4 linked regions of the Homo sapiens genome follow. The protein of the gene in region 2 purifies or fractionates together with the protein of the main gene of each other region. This does not show direct contact. Each region holds a gene or a part of one and is shown on either strand. Other genes may lie near its edges.

Evidence for each region.
Region 1: the proteins of MAP4K4 (region 2) and STRN3 purify together in Homo sapiens (affinity purification with mass spectrometry; 4 studies listed by BioGRID and IntAct, with this or other methods). This does not show direct contact.
Region 3: the proteins of MAP4K4 (region 2) and CBX3 purify together in Homo sapiens (affinity purification with mass spectrometry; one large-scale study listed by BioGRID and IntAct). This does not show direct contact.
Region 4: the proteins of MAP4K4 (region 2) and NCK2 purify together in Homo sapiens (affinity purification with mass spectrometry; 2 studies listed by BioGRID). This does not show direct contact.

The regions. Positions count from the first base shown.
Region 1 is NC_000014.9:30,904,380-30,907,879, reverse strand, and holds part of STRN3 (striatin-3), read left to right. Parts: intron 1-835; coding exon 836-1,003; intron 1,004-2,321; coding exon 2,322-2,462; intron 2,463-3,500. UniProt on the Homo sapiens protein: Calmodulin-binding scaffolding protein which is the center of the striatin-interacting phosphatase and kinase (STRIPAK) complexes.
Region 2 is NC_000002.12:101,868,707-101,872,206, reverse strand, and holds part of MAP4K4 (mitogen-activated protein kinase kinase kinase kinase 4), read right to left. Parts: intron 2,586-3,500; coding exon 2,410-2,585; intron 1,913-2,409; coding exon 1,792-1,912; intron 714-1,791; coding exon 522-713; intron 1-521.
Region 3 is NC_000007.14:26,204,745-26,208,244, forward strand, and holds part of CBX3 (chromobox protein homolog 3), read left to right. Parts: intron 1-1,623; coding exon 1,624-1,766; intron 1,767-3,500.
Region 4 is NC_000002.12:105,880,912-105,884,411, reverse strand, and holds part of NCK2 (cytoplasmic protein NCK2), read right to left. Parts: intron 3,085-3,500; coding exon 2,363-3,084; intron 1-2,362. UniProt on the Homo sapiens protein: Adapter protein which associates with tyrosine-phosphorylated growth factor receptors or their cellular substrates. Maintains low levels of EIF2S1 phosphorylation by promoting its dephosphorylation by PP1.

The DNA.
Region 1 (3,500 bases), on a different chromosome or scaffold from region 2:
GAGTTTACTAGAAAAACAGGATTGTCAGACAAATTATGCTCAATGTTATCAGCTGTCAAATGTCTGTCAGTTAAGGAACAGATAAATAAAATATGGTATATCCATACAGCAGAATATTATTTGGCACTAAAAATAAATGGAGTACTGATACATGCTCCAACATGGATAAACCTTGAAAACATGTTCAGTGACCAGGAGTTCAAGGCTGCAGTGGACTGTGACCATGCCACTGTACTCCAGCCTGGGTGATAGAGCAAGACCCTATTTCAAAAAGAAAAAAAGAAAACATACTCAGTGAAAGAACCCAGTCACAAAAGACCACATATTGTATGATTCCATTTATAGAAAATGTTCAGAAAGACACATCTATAGAGACAGAGCATTAGTTGTTGCCTAGACTTGTGGAAAGGTGGGGAGGAGGAATTGGGGGAAGTGACTAATGAGTGATGAAAGTACCCTAAAATTGATTGTCATGATGGTTGTATAACTCTGTGAACAACATACCAAAAATCATTGAAGTATACACTTTAAATGAGAGAGTTGTATGGTATGTAAATTATATCTGTATCTCAAGAAAGCTGTTTTAAAAAAAAAAAAAAGCATATGTTTCTTTATAGAAAATTGTGAAAATACAGAAAAATGTTGATGGGAGGAGGGTATAAAAGTAGGCCATAACTCTACTCTTAGATATAGCCACTATGTACACTTTAGTTTATCTTCTTGTGGCCTTTATGTGTGTTCTTTATGCTCAGTTATATGGTAAGTTTTCTTTATGTATCAAAGTTTCTTTTAAACTTCTTTTACCTAATTTTTTGTTTGTTTGTTTTTTCCCCAGAGCCAAATGTTCTAGCTGGCACTTTAGTTGGTCATACAGATGCAGTTTGGGGTCTTGCTTATAGTGGCATAAAAAATCAATTACTGTCTTGTTCAGCAGATGGCACTGTTAGGTTATGGAATCCACAAGAAAAATTGCCATGTATTTGCACTTACAATGGAGATAAAAGTAAGTAAATTTTGCATCTGTGAGAAAAGTTAGTTTTTTTAAAAAATTGGAATATATAAAGGACAAAGTAATTGATGTATTTCTTTACTGTTCCAAAGAGATATATTGAATGAATTTTGTAAAAGTTAGGATAAACTTTTTACTCATTTTTTTGAAGTGCTTTGCAACTATGTCCTGTAGTGCAATGCTTTTTTACCTTTTTTGTATTCCATTTTTTAAAAATGTAAAACTATTGTATATAACAGTGGAATAGACAAATGAGGATACTCATAGGGACAACAGGAGGCACACCACCTGTTCCAGACGACTACCCCACAAAGACCGAAGGGATCACAGTCTCAAGCATACCTATAAACCCTGTGTTCCATTACCTCGAGCACACTAGTTGAGTAGTCCAGCCATAGTCACTGAACCCCTAACTGGAACAGTACAAATTGGGTTATTTTCATGATTTTAAATATTTTCCTATTTAAAAAGGCTTTAACCAGTTTACCTTTTGAAGACATTTACTGGTCTTATTTTCCAAGTCATTTTAAATTTTTTTAATTAGACCTTTTATTTGTACATAAAAATACATATTGTTTTAAAACATTTTAGGTGAATAGTAAATATATAATTTTGTGTCTCTTAGACACCGTAGTGATTGTACTAATTTTCAGTTATCCAAGCTTTAGAGGTAAGAATTCATTTAGGTATTTGTTTCTGGCTTCATCTAGATAGTTAATAGCTTGGCTCCATATTCCATCTAATTGTGCATTGATCTGGCTAGTTTAATTTAGTATGTTAAAGAGAGAAATTGCTGCTCAGGCCATTTTAGGGTAAAGTACTGCATCAGCTGATTCCAGAGTCCAAGCCATTTTCATGAGTCCAAAAATCTGACTTGTATTAGCTGCTTGATAAGGCCTACAGATCTCTGATAGGTGAACCAGTCTCCCAAAGTTATGTGAGAATGCTAATTTATCATTTTACAGTAAGAAGTATAATTGGCAAATTGGCCAAAAGACTAGGATTTTATTTAATCCCTTAGAAGAAAACGTGTAATAGAACAAATAACTTTTGCATGTATTTACTCTTTATGAGCTCTGTAGTTATATTTTTCTTACAATATTAAATAGAATGCTATAAAGTTTTTAAATAATTGAGGAAAAGATATTTCTTATCTCACCATCCTGACACAGTTGTGTTCCTTTTCATTATTAACAGTATTTCAAGACTATTTGAATTCCTTTTTCTGATTAGAAAAACAGAGATTTCAAAAAGTAGAGATTTCATAGTAATTTTACTTTGTTTACATTGTCTGTCTTTGGGCTCATTTCAGAGCATGGAATACCTACATCAGTTGACTTTATAGGCTGTGATCCAGCTCATATGGTAACCTCTTTCAACACTGGTAGTGCAGTAATTTATGATTTAGAAACATCACAGTCATTGGTGATACTTTCATCACAGGTAGATTCTGGTAAGTTTTCATGGAGTTTCTTTGAAACCTTAAAAAGGGTTATTACACAATAGAGGGTGATCTTTTAGCTAATTTTCATATTTTCACTATTTGAATTTAGGATGGCAAAATAATTAGTTTCATAATGTTACAGTTATACTTATTTATATTATGTCTGCTTTTTCTTCAAATTTTGCTTAAAAGCTTGGGTGGACATATGGGAAAAGAGGAATGTCTAGAGCAATATGAAGGTGAAAGTAGAGAAAATAACATAATGAACTTAATGTACTCAGCATTCAGTTTTAATACCTATCTATAAATGCCCAGTATTACACATGCATTATGTGGTGTTTTACAGTTTATTTAGATAGGGATCACATAAGATTTATGTATTGCAGTTGTTTGATAGGTCTCTCAGGTCTCTCTTCATCCATAGATTCCCCTTCATCTCTTTTATGTTCTTTTTTTTTTTTTTTTAATTGACGAAATTGGCTACTTTGTCTTGTCAAGTTTCCGACAGTCTGGATTTTGCTAGTTGCATTCCTGTGTTATTTAATGTGCTTCTCTATTTCTATTCACAGTTCTCCTGTGAATTGATTATAGATCTAAAGACTTATTCAAATTCAGGTTCACTGTTTTTTTCTTTTAAAAATTTTTAAATGTTCTTGGCAACTTTACTTCATAAGTAATTTGTAAGCTTTTATCAGAGGTGAGTATTTTCTGGTTGTTCATGTTTTTGTGATGTTTTCAGTCTGGATTATTTCCTGGGTTCATTCATTTTCTATTGAAAGATTTTCTAATTTTATCATTCCCTCTCCATTTATTAGCTAGATTATTCCTATAAAAAAGAACATCTCTTTATCAACAATTTGGTTACCTTGGAGTTAGTGTGTATTAAGGAAAAAGGCAAGATAAATGATTGGGTTTTGGTTTTCCCCTTTATTTACCAGTTTTTAAAATAATGAGTTGGTTTGCTAGCACCCTCTAAAGGTGACCAGTTTGTCTTGGGTGGTGTTTTTGGTATCATCATACTCTCTCATGGATATAAATGTATTTGAT
Region 2 (3,500 bases):
AGAGTAATCAGCCAACAACCCACCCCCCAAACAAGAAAAAAAAAAAAAATCAGTTCTGTTTGAAAGAGATTCCTGTACAGGATAATAAGTTTGTCCAGATAAGGCCAAGCCTGCTGAACCGAATCTTCCTATATTTTATTTATTGGATAAAAAGAATGAAAAAGGCAGATTCCACAAATGACTATAAGAATTTCATGCCAAATACATAATACCGGTCTGAGGACAGAGCAATCATTTTATTTAGATTTTTAAAAAATAAACTAGATAAAGCCATGCAACTATACTTATCTACAGAACAGTAAACAGTGAACTGGCAAGTTTGGGGGAGCTGATCTAGGGTTAAGGGGTTTATATGCAGATCTGAAACATGTTACTTGGGGTTGGGGAGAAGGGTAGGTGACAGAGAAAGCAGGGTGGGAAGGGAAGGGGTGAGGGTGTTGGAAAGGTCTCCTTTGCAAACTAACTCCTAGGCAGTGCTGGTCTAACCCCAGGAAAGCAGCCAGCTGTGGTGCGAGACATACCTCATTAGCAGTGAGCTTGTCCTGGGGTGTCTGTGGGGACATGGTGGGTGTCGGCTGGCTGGAGGATGGGGAGGAGGAGGTGGAGGAAGTGGAGGAGGAATGGCTTTGCTGTAAGAGATCTGGCAAGAGGTGAATGCGACCGGCAAAGCCATTGCTCTCATGATGGCTGGCACGCTTTTGGTCAACTGTACTCTGTAGAAAAAACAGGCACACTTGTCTCGCTCAAGCGCTGCTAAAATTGCCTATGGCCCTATTGATAACTGCTTTAAGGTGCTGTGTGACTTATAAACTCTGCTAAATTACCAAGGAAAAACCAAAGAAATTAGCCTGAACTGCTCACACTTCCTCACCAAATGCCTAACTTGTGCCAACAGAATTCAAAGTACCTAATCTGGTGGCTGCACGGCTCGAGCAGTGAGTGTTTAATCTGGTTTATCTGTTGCGCTAGCTTCTGTTACCAAAACCAGTATCCTTTTTTTTTTCTTTTTAAATCTTTCTTTGCAAAGCTCCAGAAAGTACCTGTGGATTCTCTGAATCCTGGTCTTTTCCACATTCTTCCTACTTTCCATCCGAATGCATTGCCATAGCATGAAACACACTTAGGGCAAAGTCCAAAATACTAAATAGGTGCCCTGTTCTATTTAAATGAGAAGCGTATCACTTTAATTAAGTCTAAGCTAAGAAATGAACAGACAGTTATAAAGCTTAGTGATCCAAACTGAGCATATCTGGGTGGCACACATTTAATTATTCAACAAGTGAGAAAACTAACATTTTGGAACATAGAAGAGAAACCTCCCGAACCCTTCTGCTCTCCGAGTCTCTGGGCCTGTGATGAGGCTCGTCCTGCCTGCCTCACCCGCTCCCACTGTGGCACTGCAGACACTCAGAGCCCAGCGTGCTCTGCAGAGCCATGGTGGCTGCTCTGCCAGACTCCAGACCTGCTTCCTCACTCTGTGAGCCTGTTTAAGGACTCCCTGTGGCTTCTCTCCCGCTCAGACATAGACTGTGAGACTCAGCGCGGTGCTTGAATGAGGGCTGCCGCAGACATGCAGAGGAGCAGCGATGTGGGGTGGAGACTACTCGCTACCTTCTGGGCATGCAGTACACACCTGCCTCCCTAGCCCCCGACACTCGACACTTGACCCTCTGGGACTTGTTAACATGAAAACAGATGATGATGGAGAAACAGCATGAGTGAGTGAATGAGCAAGTGGGTTAATGACCACAGGAGAAGCTCAGCCTCTGACAACAGAGAAGACACGGGTACCTGGCGGACGATTAGAGTGCCCTCCTTGGATGGGGTCATGGCCGGCTCACTTTCTACATCATCATGGACAATCATGGTTTTCACAGATTCCGTTTCACCATTGCTCAAATTCAGAGATGACCTATGGAGAAAAAATCCAGACGTGAAAGGCCTTAATCTCTGGAGTCAAGGAGATCCTGTTTAGGCTTTTCGCCTTCTCAAAATCAAAACATGAGATGAGGCTACCGATATAAAGCCTCCTCCAAAAAAGCAACTGCTTAGCTTTCTCCCTTTAACAAAGAATTTCTTTCCAGTGCCATTTGTTTCTGAGCAAAAACTTAGAATGAATAATTATGGCTAATTAAAGTAGTTATACCAAACTGAAATTTCCCCTGGATCATATATCCTCAAATCAAAAGGAAAAAATAAAGTACACGCTGGGGTGCTGGGGGAAGCACTGACATATGCACACACCAACGAAGAGAAGGGGAAACACAAGGCGACCTGCTGCTGAATCCACGAGAACTACATAGTAAGTGCTCATGGGGTCACGGAATAGTCTAGGAACAACTAGGTCCCAGTGGAAAGCAGGCTCTGAGAGAATACTCTCATCCGCTCTAAAAGAGACCGGGGACTGACGCTGCTCTGGTGTCCTCTGGTCCTGAGGTGGACTCGTCAGCCCCTTCCTGCTCCACATCGTCGTCCTCCTCATCCGTCGTCCCCGACTCCTCACTGGATGAGGAGTAGTCCGTTACTTTGTGAGGTGGCCGTACATCTTCCACTGCTCGAAGCTCTTTGGCCAGTGCGGTCAGATCCTAAAGCAAAGGACAGAAAAGAGAGAGTAAGGCAAGCAGGAGCAGGGACAGGAGAAGATGAGAAGTTCTTTAACCATAAATTGCCACAATGTCAGTTTTGTAAGACTTTTATAGTTACCCAGTTTCATGAGAAAGTGAGCTCCTATGGCTTTTGATAGAAAAGACCAAATAAAGTCAAGAGAGAGATTAAAAAAAAAAAATAGAAGACACCAAAAAAAAGTCAAAGATGTCATATACAGTTCAAATCCCATGACAATAAAAAAAAGATCTGCTTATGTTAAGCTGATAGTATTACTGTTGTTTTTTAATATGAGGTAAAATTCTAGATCAACAAATGTATATACACAGACTCTTGGACTTTGTTGTAAGGAGATCTCCCTACATGACAAAGTCTTCTTTAGACTCATAAAAAAGGTTTTGAGAGACACATTTTTATTTTACTTCAACTTTTATTATTAAAAACTTCAAAGCGCTAAGGTTTAATATTTAATGTTTTTATTTACTAGTTATAGGATATTTATGAAATTTTAGTAATAAATATTAATATTTTACTAAAATCAACATTTTAGGTTTAATATTTTATTAATAAAAGTTGTAGAAACATAACTTCCCTCCCAAAACTCTTTAAATCAGGCTTATTTAACTAGAGGCTTGCTTTCTGGACTGACCCCTTTAAAGAAGACTTTGTCATATAGACATGTGTCTTTACACCAAAGCTCAAGGATCTGTGTATATACATTTGTTGATCTAGAATTTTACCTCATACTGAAAAAAAAAAAACTTCAAACCTACATTAAAATGAAAGGAGTGAAGTGAGCACTAGGATGCCACTGACATCTCACTTCACCGACTGTTCACAACCTGCCACATTCATGGACAAGTCTGTGACACATGAAGAGACACTGCGACCCTGAG
Region 3 (3,500 bases), on a different chromosome or scaffold from region 2:
TTGAGCAATTAAGGTTTATCTTTTTTAAATAGTATTTGGGTTTTTTGTTTTTGTGTTTTTTTGAGACAGAGTTTTTCTCTTGTTGTCCAGGCTAGAGTGCAATGGCGTGATCTTGGCTCACCGCAACTTAAGCCTCCTGGGTTCAAGCAGTTCTCCTGCCTCAGCCTCCCAAGTAGCTGGGATTACAGGCATGCACCACTATGCCTGGCTAATTTTGTATTTTTAGTAGAAACGGGGTTTCTCCATGTTGGTCAGGCTGGTCTCAAACTCCTGACCTCAGATGATCTGCCCACCTCGGCCTCCCAAAGTGCTGGGATTACAGGCATGAGCCACTGCCCCCGGCAATAGCATTTGCTTTAAGATGAAATGTTAAGATGGATTCCTTCTCAGCCCATAGGATCTTCTGATTAACCATTTCAGGGTTTTTTTTCCCCCATTTTTAATCCTCTCATAAAAATTTTCCCCATTTTTAGTCCTCTCATAGGAAATCTTGAGCCATTGGAAAGAGCTGGTTCACGTTGGTTTCCTGCTTCTCTTAAATAGTGTCATACCAAAGAAAATGCCTGTTTAAAGTGAATTTGGTTACCAGTATAGACTTTCTCTTGAGAAACCAGGAAGGAAGGATTTTTTTCACCTTAGGGAATTAAAATAAATTTGTAATGTTGGTCTCTTGAAGTGATAGCTTTATAGTTTTGTTCTAAGTGGTAGGAAATATTATCTACAGAGATTATGGAAAAATAATCTTGTCCTTTAATTGAACCTCCTAGTGGTCTCTATAGTTGACCCTGCAGTTGGTATCAGGATTTTGAACCATGTTTTCATTCTGCATTTATCTTTTCTCTGTATCATTGATGCTTTTGACATTAATATTTGAATTGAGAAGGGGGCTGGGGCTTTTACCATCTGGGGGTGGATACAAGGTCTGTCATAGGTTCACCTAAGACCTGTCACTACTACTTGCTTCTCTGTATCACCCTTTAGGTACTTCCTGCATAGTTGTTTGTTGCAGTGTTGTTAAAATGAGTGAAAATTAGTAAACTTGGTCTTTTAAGACTACAGGGCCGGGCGCAGTGGCTCACGCCTGTAATGCCAGCACTTTGGGAGGCCCAGGCTGGTGAATCACTTCAGGTCAGGAGTTTGAGACCAGCCTGGTCAACATGGTGAAACCCTGTTTCTAATAAAAACACAAAAAAAATTAGCCCGGCATGGTGGCATCCGCCTATAATCCCAGCTACTCTGGAGGCTGAGGCATGAGAACTGCTTGAACCTGGGGAGGCGGAGGTTGCAGTGAGCTGAGATCACGCCACTGCACTCCAGCCTGGGCGACAAGAGTGTGAGACCCTGTCTCAAAAAAAAAGACTGGAAAAAAATAACTGTTTCCAGATAGTGTTTTTTTATTGTATTATTTTGGTGGTGGGTTGTAAGTTTGAACTAAATGAACAAGATAAAGCATTCTTTTATTTTATTGTCTGTTGACTTTTAATCTTTCCAGAAGGTGTCTGCCCTGGGATATAGAAGTAAAAATTTATGTCGAATGTGATAATAATATAAGCAATTGAGCCTTGAAAATGTGCTCAAAATTCAAGAGGAATATTTCTTAATTTCTCTTTTGTTTTATTTTAGCAAAAAATGGGAAAAAAACAGAATGGAAAGAGTAAAAAAGTTGAAGAGGCAGAGCCTGAAGAATTTGTCGTGGAAAAAGTACTAGATCGACGTGTAGTGAATGGGAAAGTGGAATATTTCCTGAAGTGGAAGGGATTTACAGAGTAAGAAACTTTAGTGCATCTTTACTATATGTTTAACTGCAGCTAAGTGGTTTTAGAATTTGTTTTTAACCTGGCTCTTTTACCTGCTTTCCTGTAGGTGTCTTTAAATGTAAAGACACTTTGAATTTTAGGTGTCTCATTTGAGGTCTATTTCAAAAGAACCAAGACTTTATTGTACAGTTGAAGGTGAGCAGACTAGAGACTAGTTTATTACCCTGGGGAGTCAAATTTATAAAATTATGGAGTGTAGTTTACTATGTAATATATTTTAATGTGGTTAGATATTACACTAATTAGAATAATCTGCATTATTTTCCTCCACACAGAGGGTGCTAAAAACATTGAAGCTTTACAATATAGACTAGTGGGTCTCATACAGGATTACATATAATCTAGGCTTTATACTAGGTTTATTATATCCTTATACCTAAGAAGTAGAACCTGGGCATGTTTTAAGCTCTCTGGTTCCTTGTGTTCTTTGATATGGATTGCTCTCATTATTCTTGATAATGTTATTCACAAAATGTGAATAACTTGAACATGCAACAATTACATACTTTAACGCTTGGGGTTTGTTGTGCTTATCTGCTTTGATTCTTCCCCCTTACACCACAAAGCTCCATAGGCAGTGACAATTAAAAATGGATAGGTGGAGATCAATTTCCTGAGCACGCTGGAGATGGAGCATATGATAGTCGAATGATTGGGCTTCACCTATCTGTTATCTCCTACTTCCCCTGCTCTTCACATTTAATTCATAGCAGTTTGGGAATTATGAATTGAATGGGAGATTTACGTTTGCCTGTTTTATCCTTCAGTATTCTTAGTTTAAATTAAGTATGTGTCGTAAGTCCCTTCTTTATTAAGCCCATGAAACATGAAAAATTATTTTTACCCATCAAAACATTAGGAAATGAATGGGCTCCTCCCTCTTCTCCCAAAACTTAAGGCCACTAGCATGATTATAGCGTACTTCCCATGTGCAGTGTAACAGGTAATGTAAAAGACTTTTTTTTGTTTTGTTTTGAGATGGAGTCTCACCCTGTTGCCCAGGCTGGAGTGCAGTGGCGTGATCTCAGCTCACTGCAACCTCTGCCTTCCGAGTTGAGGCGATTTTCCTGCCTCAGCCTCCTGAGTAGCTGGGACTACAGGCGCCTGCCACTATGCCCGGCTAATTTTTGTATTTTAGCAGAGACCGGGTTTCACCATGTTGGTCAGGCTGATCCCAAACTCCTGACCTCAAGTGATCCACCTGCCTTGGCCTCCCAAAGTGCTGGGATTACAGGTGTGAGCCACCGTGCCAGGCCAAAGAAGACTTTAATGAAAATAATACTACAGAGCAGAGACTTTTATTGTCCTCTACCCAGTAATTTGGGTTTACTAATTTGGAGTCTCAGGGTAGCAAATTAGAATATAGGGCCTGGGTGCAGTGGCTCACACCTGTAATTCCAGCACTTTGGGGGTCCAAGGCTGGAGGATCACTTGACACCAGGAATTCAAGACCAGCCTGGCCAACAAAATGAGACCCCTTCTCTATTAAAAAAAAAAAAAAAGTGTGTGTTTTAAGTTAGCTGGGCATGGTGGTGCATGCCTGTAGTCCCAGCTACTTGGGCTGAGGTGGAGGATCGCTTGAGTCGGGAGTTGGAATCTTCAGTGAGCTATGATTCCACTACTGCACTCTCGTCTGGGCAACAAAGCAAGACCCTGTCTCTGGCGGAGGCAGGCTGGGGGGTG
Region 4 (3,500 bases), 4.0 Mb from region 2:
CTGAACCCCTCAGAAACCTTTCCATCCTGGCATGCTGCGAAGGAATTATGTCAGATCATGAACCTAAGGGCTCTTGGTGGCCTAGTGGTGGCTGCGAAAGCCAGCTCTAACCTGAGAAATGCCAAAATGAGCAGGAAAACACATGGGGACGGGGGGAGGCAGTGGATGGTGGGAAAAAAACAAGCAAAGGACTTGTCCACTTGTCCACCAGGACAGGTCCCTGGTAGTCACAGATGACAGCTGAGAACGCCTTGGTTATGAACAGGAAATACAGCAAACCTGGCATGGTTCTGCTGTCAGGAGAAAAGAAGCCACACACACACCTCAGGGCTCTTGCAGAATCCCCATGGAACAAGGCATGCACACTAACAGCTGAAAATGGCCCGTGTCACGGCAAGATCCATCAGGACAAGCTGCCCTGCACAGCATCAGGCCACGTGGAACCTCAGACAAAGACGGTGCTGCTATGTGTGCAGAGCCGATGCAAGTCCCAGTAAAGCTCTTTCCGCCCTATATTCCTAGAATCATATATGTTGTTCCTTGACTTTCTAAGTTAGGAGAGAATGCAAAAAACCCTGAAAGGCCCCCATTAAAAAACTGTTAAAAGGAAATACAAACAATTCGTGCTTTAGTTCTTTAGAAAAAGTTAGCTCATTCTCTAACAATATAAGACAACTGAGACAGTGGGGTGCAGAGTTCTGAGATGAAACCCAGACAATGCATGCATCCCTCCTTATCCAAAGGGACTTGGTCCCTGAATTCAGACAGCAATGACCACCTGTGCATGTTCCACAGAAAAGCCATAGGTCCTCCCTAAGGCCAGCAACCCCGGAGAACACCTTTTTCATCTACCCTCTAAAGTCTTTCCTCTTTTCCCCAAATCTTAGGCAGAAAGAATAATGACTGGGACCAATGTCTCCACACTGCAGGACTTCCTTCTGAGAAGTCTCCTCAAACTCAAAAAATTTTAAGCCAAGATCATATTTTGTGCATTATACTTAGCCCTTAAGGACTCTGGACCAAGCACTTAATATTGTAATTGGTTTTCCAGCGCTTTCTCTAAGTTTCTGCTCGATTGAGTTAAAAGCGCTGCTGTCCTTAATTTGCTTAAGGCTTCAAACACGATCTAAAAGAAGTGGTGCACAGAGCTCTCGTCATGTGAGAACAATTCAATGTGATGTCTTGCCAGGAATGATAAACTCTGGTGACTTGATAAATCTCAGAGTTCAGATTTCAGATGAAGTTAGCTTTCAGCCTGGCATTCCCGTCCAAGCACATGTAAGGCTCCGCAAAATTGATGACACCATAAAGGAGTCCAGTTTCCACCACCACGATGCTCCGTCCTCAAAGAGAGCACATCCCAGTCGCCTCTCTCTGGAGGGCTTTGAATGCCTCTCTGATCAGTCAACAGGACCCTTGAATGAGCACTTATTCATTGTGCCAGTAATCTTTTCAGAGGACAGCAGTGGCAGCAGGTAGTACATACTTACTAGTCTTATAGCGTGCATTTAAAAATGAAATTGAAGCCTCCTAGAACCAATACAATTCAAATACATTAAACTCTATCTCCTAAATGCTTGTTTTGGAAGTCTCTCGATTGTAGAAGGTGTATTCGGAAAGACGTTTGCAAAACTGGTCGAGTATTTCCTTCACACACGAAAAGCCTGCCTTCTGGGATGCAGGCTTGACCCCATGCCTGAAACTCACCGCCCCCAGCCTGCCCACCGCTGAACTGGGTCTGCTGCCCCAGTCGAGTGGCCTCATATCTCCGACTCACTGCACACAAACAAAACTCATCTCTCCCAAGAACCCCTGTTTTCTTTTCAATTTATCTCGTAAGTGCTTTAAAAGCTTTTGAGAGATGAACTCAGTGGCGCTGCCTGCCGTGGCAATGACCTTGGGATTATATGGTTTACAAAGAGAAAGCAAGCAAACAACAAAAGGAGGTGTCAGAAACCAGCCACCAGTCTTGCAAAGAATGCTTTCTCTGGGACACAGACCGAATAGAAACAAAGTAAATCACTCGGGCCTTCTACGTACACAGAATGGGCAACCAGGAGAGAAAATGATGTTTGAGCCTGTGAAATACAAGAGGGGGAATCTTGGGAGAGAAGCAGAACCACCTCTGTGAGCTAAAAACATCTTTTTAGTTAATCTCCCACCTCCAGAAATGGACACCCACTATCCCCAAAACAGATGCAAGTAAATCACGGAGTAGCAAACATTATACTAAATTGCATTCATCTGCGTCTCCCGCTCTTTCTAGTGTACTCACACAATGTGAAAAGGGCGCGGCACACAGACCCACCGCGCAAGGCGCATTTACTGCCTGCAGCCGGAGCTGTGGGCGCAGCGCACTTACCGAGGACTCGCTGTCCCTAATGAGGAAGTCGCCCTCCACGCCCCGCTCGTTGAGGGCGCACTCGGCCTGGTGCCGCGTCACGTTCCCGTAGTACCACTCTCTGCCCGCGAAGCGCCCGCTGGACGAGGGCCCGGTGTAGCTTATCTGTGGGGCGTGCGCAGGGTGCAGGGCAGGCCCGTCACTGAGGACCACCACGTAGTTTTTGGGGACGAGGCCCACCTGGCCCCGGGCATTTTTGCATTTCCACCACTCGGGGTCGTTCTCCGGCTTCTCAATCACCTCCATGGTCTCCCCCTTCTCGAAGTTGAGCTCCTCCTCGGTGACTGAGCTGAAGGGGTACAGCGTCTGGACCACATGCAGCACGCGGGAGCCCTGGCCATTGCTCAGCGAGGCGCCCTTGCGCAGGCTCAGGAAGCTTGGGGACTCCGCAGCCGCCTCGTCCACCTCCTCCAAGACGTAGTTGGAGGGGAACCAGCCGATCTGCCCGTTGTAGCTGCCCCGCCACCAACCGTCGCTGCACTTCTCCATGACGGTGACGCGCGACCCCTTCACCAGGGACAACTCATCCTCCCGCTCGGCCACATAGGCGAACTTGACGAAGGCCGGGATGTTGAGGTCGTAGATGCGGTCGGCGCCGCTGCCATTGGCGGGGTACTCGGCGTCCGTGCTGGGCGTGGGGGACGCATCCCGCGCGCTGGTCTTCCTGCGCGTCTTGCCGAGGCCTGTGGAGACACAGCAAGGCTCAGTGGCGCAGGGCACTTGGGCACCACCACACTCCCTAGCCTACCGGGATTTCCACGCAGTTTCTCTGGCGGTTAAATACAAGGGGACGACACATGGACAGTGCTTACAAACTGTAATTACCATGAGAAAAATACGGTTGCTGGCAGCTGCCTCCTGTAGTTGCGAAGTTACTTAAAGTTGAGAATTAAATTGATCTATTTTATCCATAAAAACATGTCACAGGGCCAGCACAGTGGCTCACGCCTGGAATCCCAGCCTTTGAGAGGCCCAGGCGGGAAGATTGCTTGAGGCCAGGAGTCTGAGACCAGCCTAAGCAACATAGCGAGACCGTGTCTGCAAAAAAAAAAAAAAAAAAAAAAAAAAAAAAAATTAGCCACCTGTGGTGCACATCTGT